Linked DNA regions of Homo sapiens: region 2 is linked to region 1. Evidence: fine-mapped expression QTL. A gene starts in region 1. The other region holds a variant in brackets. All regions are shown on one strand. Distances are from middle to middle.

Region 1 (4,401 bases):
CCAGTGGGCAGGAGAGAGCTCTGAAAACACACATGCACTCGCCCACATACCCACAGCTAGGCTGGATCTTGTGACAAGGAATATCACAGAAATACTCCCAGCCTCCTATACCTCTTCTACCTGCCCCCACGCCCTGCAGAGTTAGAGTCCGTAGATAAGCCCTTGGGGCCTCCTCTTCTTTGTCGTCTTTGTCCCCTTCTTTTTCCCACTCACTGGCTTCCAGCCATCCCCCTTCCTGTGGTGCCCCTCTCACTACATGAAATGCAGCTCTGAGGGACCCCATTCAGTCTTATGTTTCGGGCCTTAGGTGTAGGCTACTGCCTTCCTTTCTGCCCCTTCTACTTTATCGACTTGTTCTTTCAGGTTGAAATAATAAAATGTAGAAAGGTGGAAAAATTAAAGCTTGAGACTTAACTAGGATCTAATCATGGCAACATGTGCTATTGGGCCAAACATAGGTTGCAAACACAAACCACAGCAGGACAAGGCACATGATACAAGTCTATGAAGAGTGTCTGCAACATGATAAGAGCTAAGCTTGTTATATTTCACTTGACAATAGAAATTGTATGGATGTATTGCCATTTAATAGACTGTGATTCAAACAAAACAACTATAGGCTGGCATATAGGCTGCCAGTAGGCCACTATGGTTCCCACACTAGGACTTGCCCCTCTGTAAATGGGGAAATCAAGGAAAGATCTTGAGCAGTGGGGGAGGCATGGTCGAGCAGTAGTTGAAAGGATTAATCTGGTGGCATCGTACAAGTAACTGCAAGAAGCTGAGCTTGAGAAGCTGGGAAGACATGATTGAAGGCCATTGTGAGGAAGGATGAGGACCTGGACTACTTTAATAAGCGGTGGGATTTTTTCTTAGTTGGATAGAAAGAGATTGAAAATGATTCAAAAAGGCCAGTTGCGGTGTCTCATGCCTGTAATCCCAATCCTTTGGGAGGCTGAGGCAGAAGGATCACTTGAGCCTAGGAGTTTGAGACCAGCCTGAGCAACATGGGAAGACCTCATCTATAAAAAAAAAATAATAAATTAGCTGGGTGTAGTGGTGGATGCCTGTAGCCCCAGCTACTTGGGAGGCTGAGGTGGGAGGATCATTTGAGCTCAGGAAGTCAAGGCTGCAGTGAGCTGGGATGGCACCACTGCACTCCAACCTGGGTGACAGAGTGAGACCCTATCTCAAAAAAAAAAAAAAGAAAAGAAAAGGAAAAATCAACAGGCTTTGGTAACAAATTGGAGAGGGACAGAATCAAAGTAACTAACTATATGGTTCAATCCTAGATAATGGAAGAAGGCTGGAAGCATATAAAGCAAAGGGTGTTTATCTGGGGAAAGAAAACACTATTTGAGTTGTCAGGGTTCTGGTTCAGGTTAGGGTTAGACATCCATGTACTGTTGGTCCATCAGGCTGTTGGAATTACAGCAGCAGAACCCTTGAAGGAGGGATCACAATGGGAGCAATGTGGGATGAATGGGGATAAATGCTAAATCTGGGTACTGGAAAGGATAAAGAGAGGGCAGAGCAAAGGCCAGAGGTTTCATCTTTGTGGAAGGTCTGTATTCAGAGCAGAGAGGAAGTTGAAGCCCAACTCAAACAGGCAGATAAAGAGAGATCAAAGAGATGAGCATGAGATACAGTCCCCTCGTGCCCAAGGAGACAGGGTGGTTACAGACATGGAAAATCTGAGAATAATCACCTCTGATAAAGATCACAGAAGCTGCCCGGGAGGTGTTTGGTAAGCTTGGAGTTACGTTTGTGGGGTGGATGGGCAGAAGTCAGATTTCATAGCACTGAGGATGCAGCACAAGGAGAAGTTCAAGATCAATTCCTAAGACAACAACTTGGCACTAAAAAACATAAACTATGTTCTGAAGGCTTTACCCTGGGGACAAGGGAAGGGAGGTGATAACAGCAGAAGTGGCAGCCACTGGCGATCCTTTCTTTCCATGGTTTGGCTTCTACTCCAAAGCCACTTATTTGTGCATTCTACAAAAAGTTTCTTGTCCTTTTTGAAATAAAGCTCTTATCCTAAGCTCCATTCACACCTGCGTGATAATGAACCAGCTAGTACTTACTGTACTCAGGAAGCATGCAAAGTTCTGAATCTTAGAACAGAAAGTGAAAGCAAAAGTAAATTCCCCTTCAGTCAAATCTGCAGCAGCATGATTTAAGGTAACGTATCAACATTTCTCTTGGGTTTGTCTTAAAATTAGATTTTTTCAATAAGAATAATGAACTGAAGGTATAGAACTGCTGTGTTGAGAAGGTTTTGTAATCTAAGGCAAGGTTCTGGGGGACTGGGGTGAATTGGGCGCGGCTGTATTAGAAAGTGTATGCAGTTGAGGCTGGGACTTGATCTAAGACGCTGCTGCACTGACTCTCTTTCAGAGATCTTTTTGTCTTTTCTAAGCGTTTGTGACAATTCTTGCCTCTTCAATCCCAGGATGTTTTGTTCACTGCATTGCTATTTAAGGTACAGTGCAGTATAATAGAAAGCCCACCAGACCAAAGGGCAAAGAGCTATGTTTTAGTCCTGATTCTGTTTCAGACTTCCTGTGTGGATTTTGAGAAGTCACCATCCTGTTCCTTCATCTGTTTATTTAATTTAATTTATGTATTTATTTATTTATTTATTTTGAGAGAGAGCCTCGCTCTGTCGCCCAGGCTGGAGTGCAGCAGCACGATCTCGGCTCACTGCAACTTCCACCTCCCTGGTTCAAGCGATTCTCGTGCCTCAGCCTCCCGAGTAGCTAGGACTACGGGCATGTGCCACCATGCCCGGCTAATTTTTGTATTTTTAGTAGAGGTAGGGTTTCACCATGTTGGTGAGGCTGGTCTCGAATTCCTGACCTCAGGTGATCTGCCCACCTTGGCCTCCCAAAATGCTGGCATTACAGACCTGAGTCACTGTGCCCGGTCCTGTTTCTTTATCTGAACACTAAGGACTTGTACTAGCTGGCCTTTACAACCCTTACTAGTTCTAAAGTTAAAGACTGTGTGAGTAAAGCTTTTCTCTCTACTCTTATCAATCAAGTACATCTCTAGGAGTGTCTGCTACAAGTGGGGGCGAGCTACTCCTTCATTTTGGCCATTGAATGCAAGTTATAACCTCAATAATAATTTCATATCCAACACTAATTACTTACTTCCTATATGCTCCATGCTGTGCTGTGCCAACTTCTTCACATGAATTATTTCATTTAATCATCCCAGCATGAGGAAGGTATAATTATTACACTGTTTTATGGTTGAGATAAATGAAGCTCAAAAAGTAAAAAACTTTGCCCATGATCACGTAGGTGAGGTTGGTGGAATTAGCGTTGGAATCTGGGCACTCTGATTCCAAAGCCTCAGACCCACATAATAAGCCACTCCATTTTTTTTAAACCCTCCAAAATTCAAGCTAATAGACCAATTATGAGTGTACTTATCAGACGTTCTTGGAACACTGAGATTTGTAGCAGTAATTTAATGCTTGTTTTTAAAAAGAGGGAGAAGTATCTTTAATATTATTTTATTTTTGTTCCTTTAACAATACCTGTCACCTGCATTAATATTGCAAATTGAAAAATTGAAGTAATTGTTTGGATAATTAATGCTGCAGAACTTGTTAAGGATTATAAAAAGAAGAAGTAGCAGAGAAAACCTTCATGGTTTGAGTTGGAGCAGTAAGGAAGTAAGTAGAGGCAGGTGGTAGGGTGGCAGTAAGAATTGATTCCCCCAAATTAACTATGCTGTTTGTCCTAATTTTATATGTGTTGTAGCTTTACCCTTCAAAAAGAAAGAAACTTAGTTCTATTTACAAAGGTAGTAAATTCAGTTTGATTTAATTGTGCTTTCAAAAGTAGTGTAAAGGGAAAAGAACCGAACCTTAAAAAAATTCTGTAAGAATATTATAAACTCAAAATTTATTTCCATGGCTTTTGACATATTGAAAATAAACTGGGGATAAATACCTACCTTGACCAGCAACCTTTACACCAGTAGCCATAAAATGAGGCCATTCAGATAATGTTATTGAAAGAGGTGAAGTTCAATGCCATTCGTAGTAATAATAATATCTGGTATCCAAAGAATATAGAATATATATATAGAATATTCTTTGTGACTTATGAAGACAAAATAGAGACATCTTGCACAGTTTACTTTCAGGCATACACTTAAAATTACATGTGTGCCTGTGGTTCCAGCTAATTGGGAGGCTGAGACATCAGGATTGCTTGACCCCAGGAATTTGAGGCCAGCCTGGGCAACATGGTGACACATTGTCTTTCAAAAAAAATAAAATATGGCCAGGCGCAGTGACCCACGCCTGTGATCTCAGCACTTTGGGAGGCTGAGGCAAGTGGATCACCTGAGGTCAGGAGTTCGAGACTAGCCAGGCCAACA
Region 2 (4,401 bases), 29 kb after region 1:
CAGACCTAAGGACAGAGTAGGTCTGATTCATGATGTGTTTCAGCTAGTTGGGTAAGGCAACATTTCCTCTGACTTCATGCAAAATAACTGATTCGTAACCAGATATGCTAGACTTCAATATTGAATGTTCAACATTGGTCATTGATTTAATATGGATTTGAATGGAATTCAAACAGTGATCACTAGGCCAAAGACTACCCACTAATAACGTATTTTGACCCACACAGTGTTTATAATTGTAATCCAATATTTTAAAATGTGGAGAACTTTACCTAAAAATCCTGACCTCTGGAATCTCTTAAAAATGATATTTGGCAACTGTGGGTCTTTATCCTGTGGGCCACAGGATAGCTATAAAGGAGAGTGCAGTGGGCCAAACTCTCTTTAGGCCAGGCCTACTTTCTCCCAAGCACCAAAGTCCCAAATGGCCTGTTTCATTCACTTAGTGTGGACTCTCTAAGTATTTGAGCTTTCGACCCCACATTTAAAATGTATTTATGTTATTAGCTGCTACACCAAATACCGGTGTAATCTCTTAAGGAAAAGTACAAATATAGTCTTAACTTTTATAATTTTAAATGGGTTGTTATGAAATCTATTCATTACTTACACTGGAGAAATTAGTATGACGTTTGTAGGGAAATGAAGTAATAAATGGCTGTTTGCATTCATTCCTCTCTAGACTTTCCTGGAAGGACAAAGTGTTTTCTTTCTTTTTCTATGTATCATGAACAGAATAATGTGTGGAATGAATCAGGTCACAAGATCACCAATGGCTGGAGGGAATTGAGGACCAGGAAGTATATTGTGCATTGCAAGCTTTCCCTATTCTGAGAATTACTGTGATGCACTCACTTTACTCAATGTGACATATAATTTTCTTTCAGGAGCTTATTTAGGTCAAATTGAGTGAAAGTGACCAGCAGGACATCTCTGAGACAAAGTTTCTCGGTACACTAAAATCCTCTAGTTAGAAAGAAAAGAGGAAGTGAGGCTTAATCCTCAGTCCCGTGGGTCTCAGGAACATCTTGGAGGCATAGCTCATTGGAGGCCAAAATTAGGAAAAACACCATCCTACATATGAGTGAATGCATGAAAGGTGAGCTAAGAAGCAAGCTATTGCTAGTTGAAGGAGGTTTGCCTGCTCAAAGGAGAAGCTCTGAGTAGATTGAAGAGAAGATAGATTAACAATGCAAGACTTGGAAAAAATGGAGAATATTGACAATTCAGCAAATTAATCTTTTAGGTAGTTGTGAAATCTTTTTTGCTGTTTCTAGCCTATCCACTTAGATTGTCTAAATTTAGTAGGAGGAAATTTGCAGTTATTGATGCATTGGTGGAAAACTAATCATCTTTTCTTCACTAAGTAGACAGATTAATGAAGTTAAGAATACAAATTTTATATGAAAATTTCAAGAAGATTTCAGGTATTACCTCTTCACTTACTAATTTTTTGAGCTTGGACAAGTTTTGTTTTTTTAACCTTTTTAAGCCTAAATTTTCCAGTCTTTAAAACTTTATTACTAATAATATCCGATATACAAGGTTTGGAGGATTGCATAGGTAATGAAGATAAAGCAGTAAGTGCAGTACTTACTCAATAAATGTCAGCTGTTAACATTATTAGTATTATCTAATACAAATTATTTGAAATGTCATGACATGAATAGGAGGAGGAGATGACAACATAGAAAAGTACACTTCAAATAATGTGAAGTTGAGAAAAAGGCAGAATGTAAGTCTGTGTATTATTATGTTTGTTTGCAACTACAAATGAAAAAAATAAGTGCGAAGGGGAAACAAAAACCTGAAGGAATTATTTCAAAATGCTATTGTTGAGTGTGTAGGGTATTGAAATTATGAGCCTTCTCTAATTTCTGGTTGTTTTGTAATTATGAGTCTAATTTCTAGTTGTTCTGAAATTTGTTTATATTTACTTATATTACATTTATAACAAAAGTAATTGTATAAGAAAACAATTTAAAGCTCTCATAATAGATAAAAATAAATAATTTTTACTTGCTGTTCTTTCTCAATACTATAAACCACTTTCCTCCCTGCTTTATGAAACTTCAATTTAAGAATTAAAGGAGGCCCGGCACAGTGGCTCATGCCTGTAACCCTACCATTTTGGGAGGCTGAAGCAGGCAGATCACTTGAAGCCAGGAGTTTGAGATCAGCCTGGGCAACATAGTGAAACCCCATCTCTACTAAAAATAAAAAAATTAGCCCAGTGTGGTGGTGTACGCCTGTAATCCCAGCTACTTGGGTGGCTGAGGCACATGAATCGCTTGAACCCAGAAGATCACGCCACTGAACTCCAGCCTGGGTGACCGAATAATACTCTGTCTCAAAAAACAAACAAACAAAAAAGAATCAAAGGAACCAATAGTGATCACATTTAGTTTGGAGAGATAATTTTTTTTTCTTTTTA[A/AT]TTTTTTTTTTTTTTTGTAGAGACAGGGTCTCCCTATATTGTACAGGCTGATATTGAATTCCTGGCCTCAAGCACTTCTGCTCAGCCTCGCAAATTGCTCAGTTTACAGGCATGAGCCACCACACCCAGTGTAAATCAATCTTTACAAGAGGTGATACTATTTAGTTCTTTAGTGGACAAGACATTGTCATCCAAGGGCTGTCTCCAGAGCCATTCTCTTAACCACGACACGACACTGTCTCTTTTTTTTTTCTTCCTCCCCCTCCTCCTCCTCTTCCTTCTCCTCCTCCTCTTCCTCTTCCTCTTCTACTTCTTCCTCTTCTTCTTCTTCAAGGGCTTTGCTCTTCTTCTTCAAGGGCTTTACTCAGGCTGCAGTGCAGTGGTGCGATCATGGCTCACTGCAGCCTCAACCTCCTGGGCTCAAGCGATCCTCCCACCTCAGCCTCCTGAGTAGCTGGGACTACAGGCACACACCACCATGCCCAACCAATTTTTAAATTTTTTGGCAGAGATGGCGTCTGCCTATGTTGTCCAGGCTGGTCTCAAACTTCTGGGCTCAAGCAATCCTCCTGCCTCGGCTTCCCCAATTGCTGGGATTACAGGTGTGAGCCACTGCACCCAGAATGGAGAGAGAATTTGATGCAAGAATTGATATTTATTTTAGTTCGGTTTTCATACATTTTAAATGTAATTTAAAGACAGGGGTCTTGGATAAGTTGAGTGGAATTGAAATGACAACTTCAATTTGCCTATAGAAAAAGCTATATTTGTTTCTTTTAGTCCCACACCTTAAAGAGAAAACCCCACATTGGGCGCAGTGGCTCACGCCTGTAATCCCAGTACTTCGTGAGGCCAAGGCGGGTGGATCACCTGAGGTCAGGAGTTCAAGACCAGCCTGGCCAACATGTTGAAACCCCGTCTCTACTAAAATTATAAAAATTAGCTGGGCATGGTGGTGTGTGCCTTCCCAGCTACTTGGGAGGCTGAGGCAGGAGAATCGCTTGAACCCGGGAGGCAGAGGTTGCAGTGAGCCAAGATTGTGCCATTGCACTCCAGCCTGGGCAACAGGAGTGAAACTCCATCTCAAAAACAAAACAAAACAAAACAAAACAGAAAACCCAAATTGGTGCTTCAAGAATATGATGTTATTTCTCAAAGGTACAATCTAGCTGAAATCATATACAAGTAAGTAGGTGTGGACTTTTACTGTTGAGCTAAGGTTTATGTTTATATATGTTTTATTCTTTAAGCTAAACAAACATTCAGATAACATTCTATGCATTTTTTGAAGCATAGGGTTAGTAATGAGGACTTAGATTTTTTAATTAAACAACTCAGTAACTATATAAAAAGAAAAGGAGTCCCTTATGAATAAATATTAAAATTAAAAGAAATAGGCAACTATAAAAGTAAGTATTTTTAATAATGGCATTGATTTTAGTAAGAAATCAATTAGGCTGGGCTGGAAAGAAAAACTGGCTTAATATAAAGTAGTTTTAATATGTCAAATATTCTTCTTAAAATTGTGGCCCTGGAATATCATTTCTGCCTATTGCTGATGCTAAGGTATCAACTGTGCCAGGTATTGTGCTGCTCACACAGGTGGGAAGGAGTAGCAACATTTTGTGGATTTTTTTTTTTTTAATACGGCAGACTAGCCGGGCCAGGTGGCTCATGCCTGTAATCCCAGCATTTTGGGAGGCCGAGGCGGGTGGATCACCTGAGGTCAGGAGTTCAAGACCAGCCTGGCCAACATGGTGAAATCCCGTCTCTACTAATACTACAAAAAATTAGCTGGGCATGGTGGCACATGGCTATAATCCCAGCTACTCAGGAGGCTGAGGCAGGAGAATTGCTTGAACCCAGGAGGCAGAGGTTGCAGTGAGCTGAGATTATGCCATTGTACTCCAGCCTGGGTGACAAGAGCAAAACTCTGTCTCAAAAAAAAAAAATATATATATATGGCA

What was found.
Region 2: its variant is fine-mapped to the expression of ERAP2 in activated CD8 T cells (Schmiedel 2018, PIP 0.95).

The regions. Positions count from the first base shown.
Region 1 is chr5:96,874,344-96,878,744 of GRCh38, forward strand. ERAP2 (endoplasmic reticulum aminopeptidase 2) reads left to right here and starts at 2,157. Exons shown (of 19, transcript NM_022350.5): 1 at 2,157-2,184. It also overlaps a transcript of ERAP1 not described here. RefSeq lists enhancers at 1,796-1,925, 1,946-2,095, 2,266-2,475, 2,846-3,055.
Region 2 is chr5:96,903,510-96,907,910 of GRCh38, forward strand. It overlaps ERAP2 (endoplasmic reticulum aminopeptidase 2), which reads left to right. Exons shown (of 19, transcript NM_022350.5): 13 at 1-51. It also overlaps a transcript of ERAP1 not described here. Among named protein-coding and RNA genes, the nearest start is that of ERAP2, 29 kb to the left of the region's middle. The variant A/AT (reference allele first, on the strand shown) is at 2,435.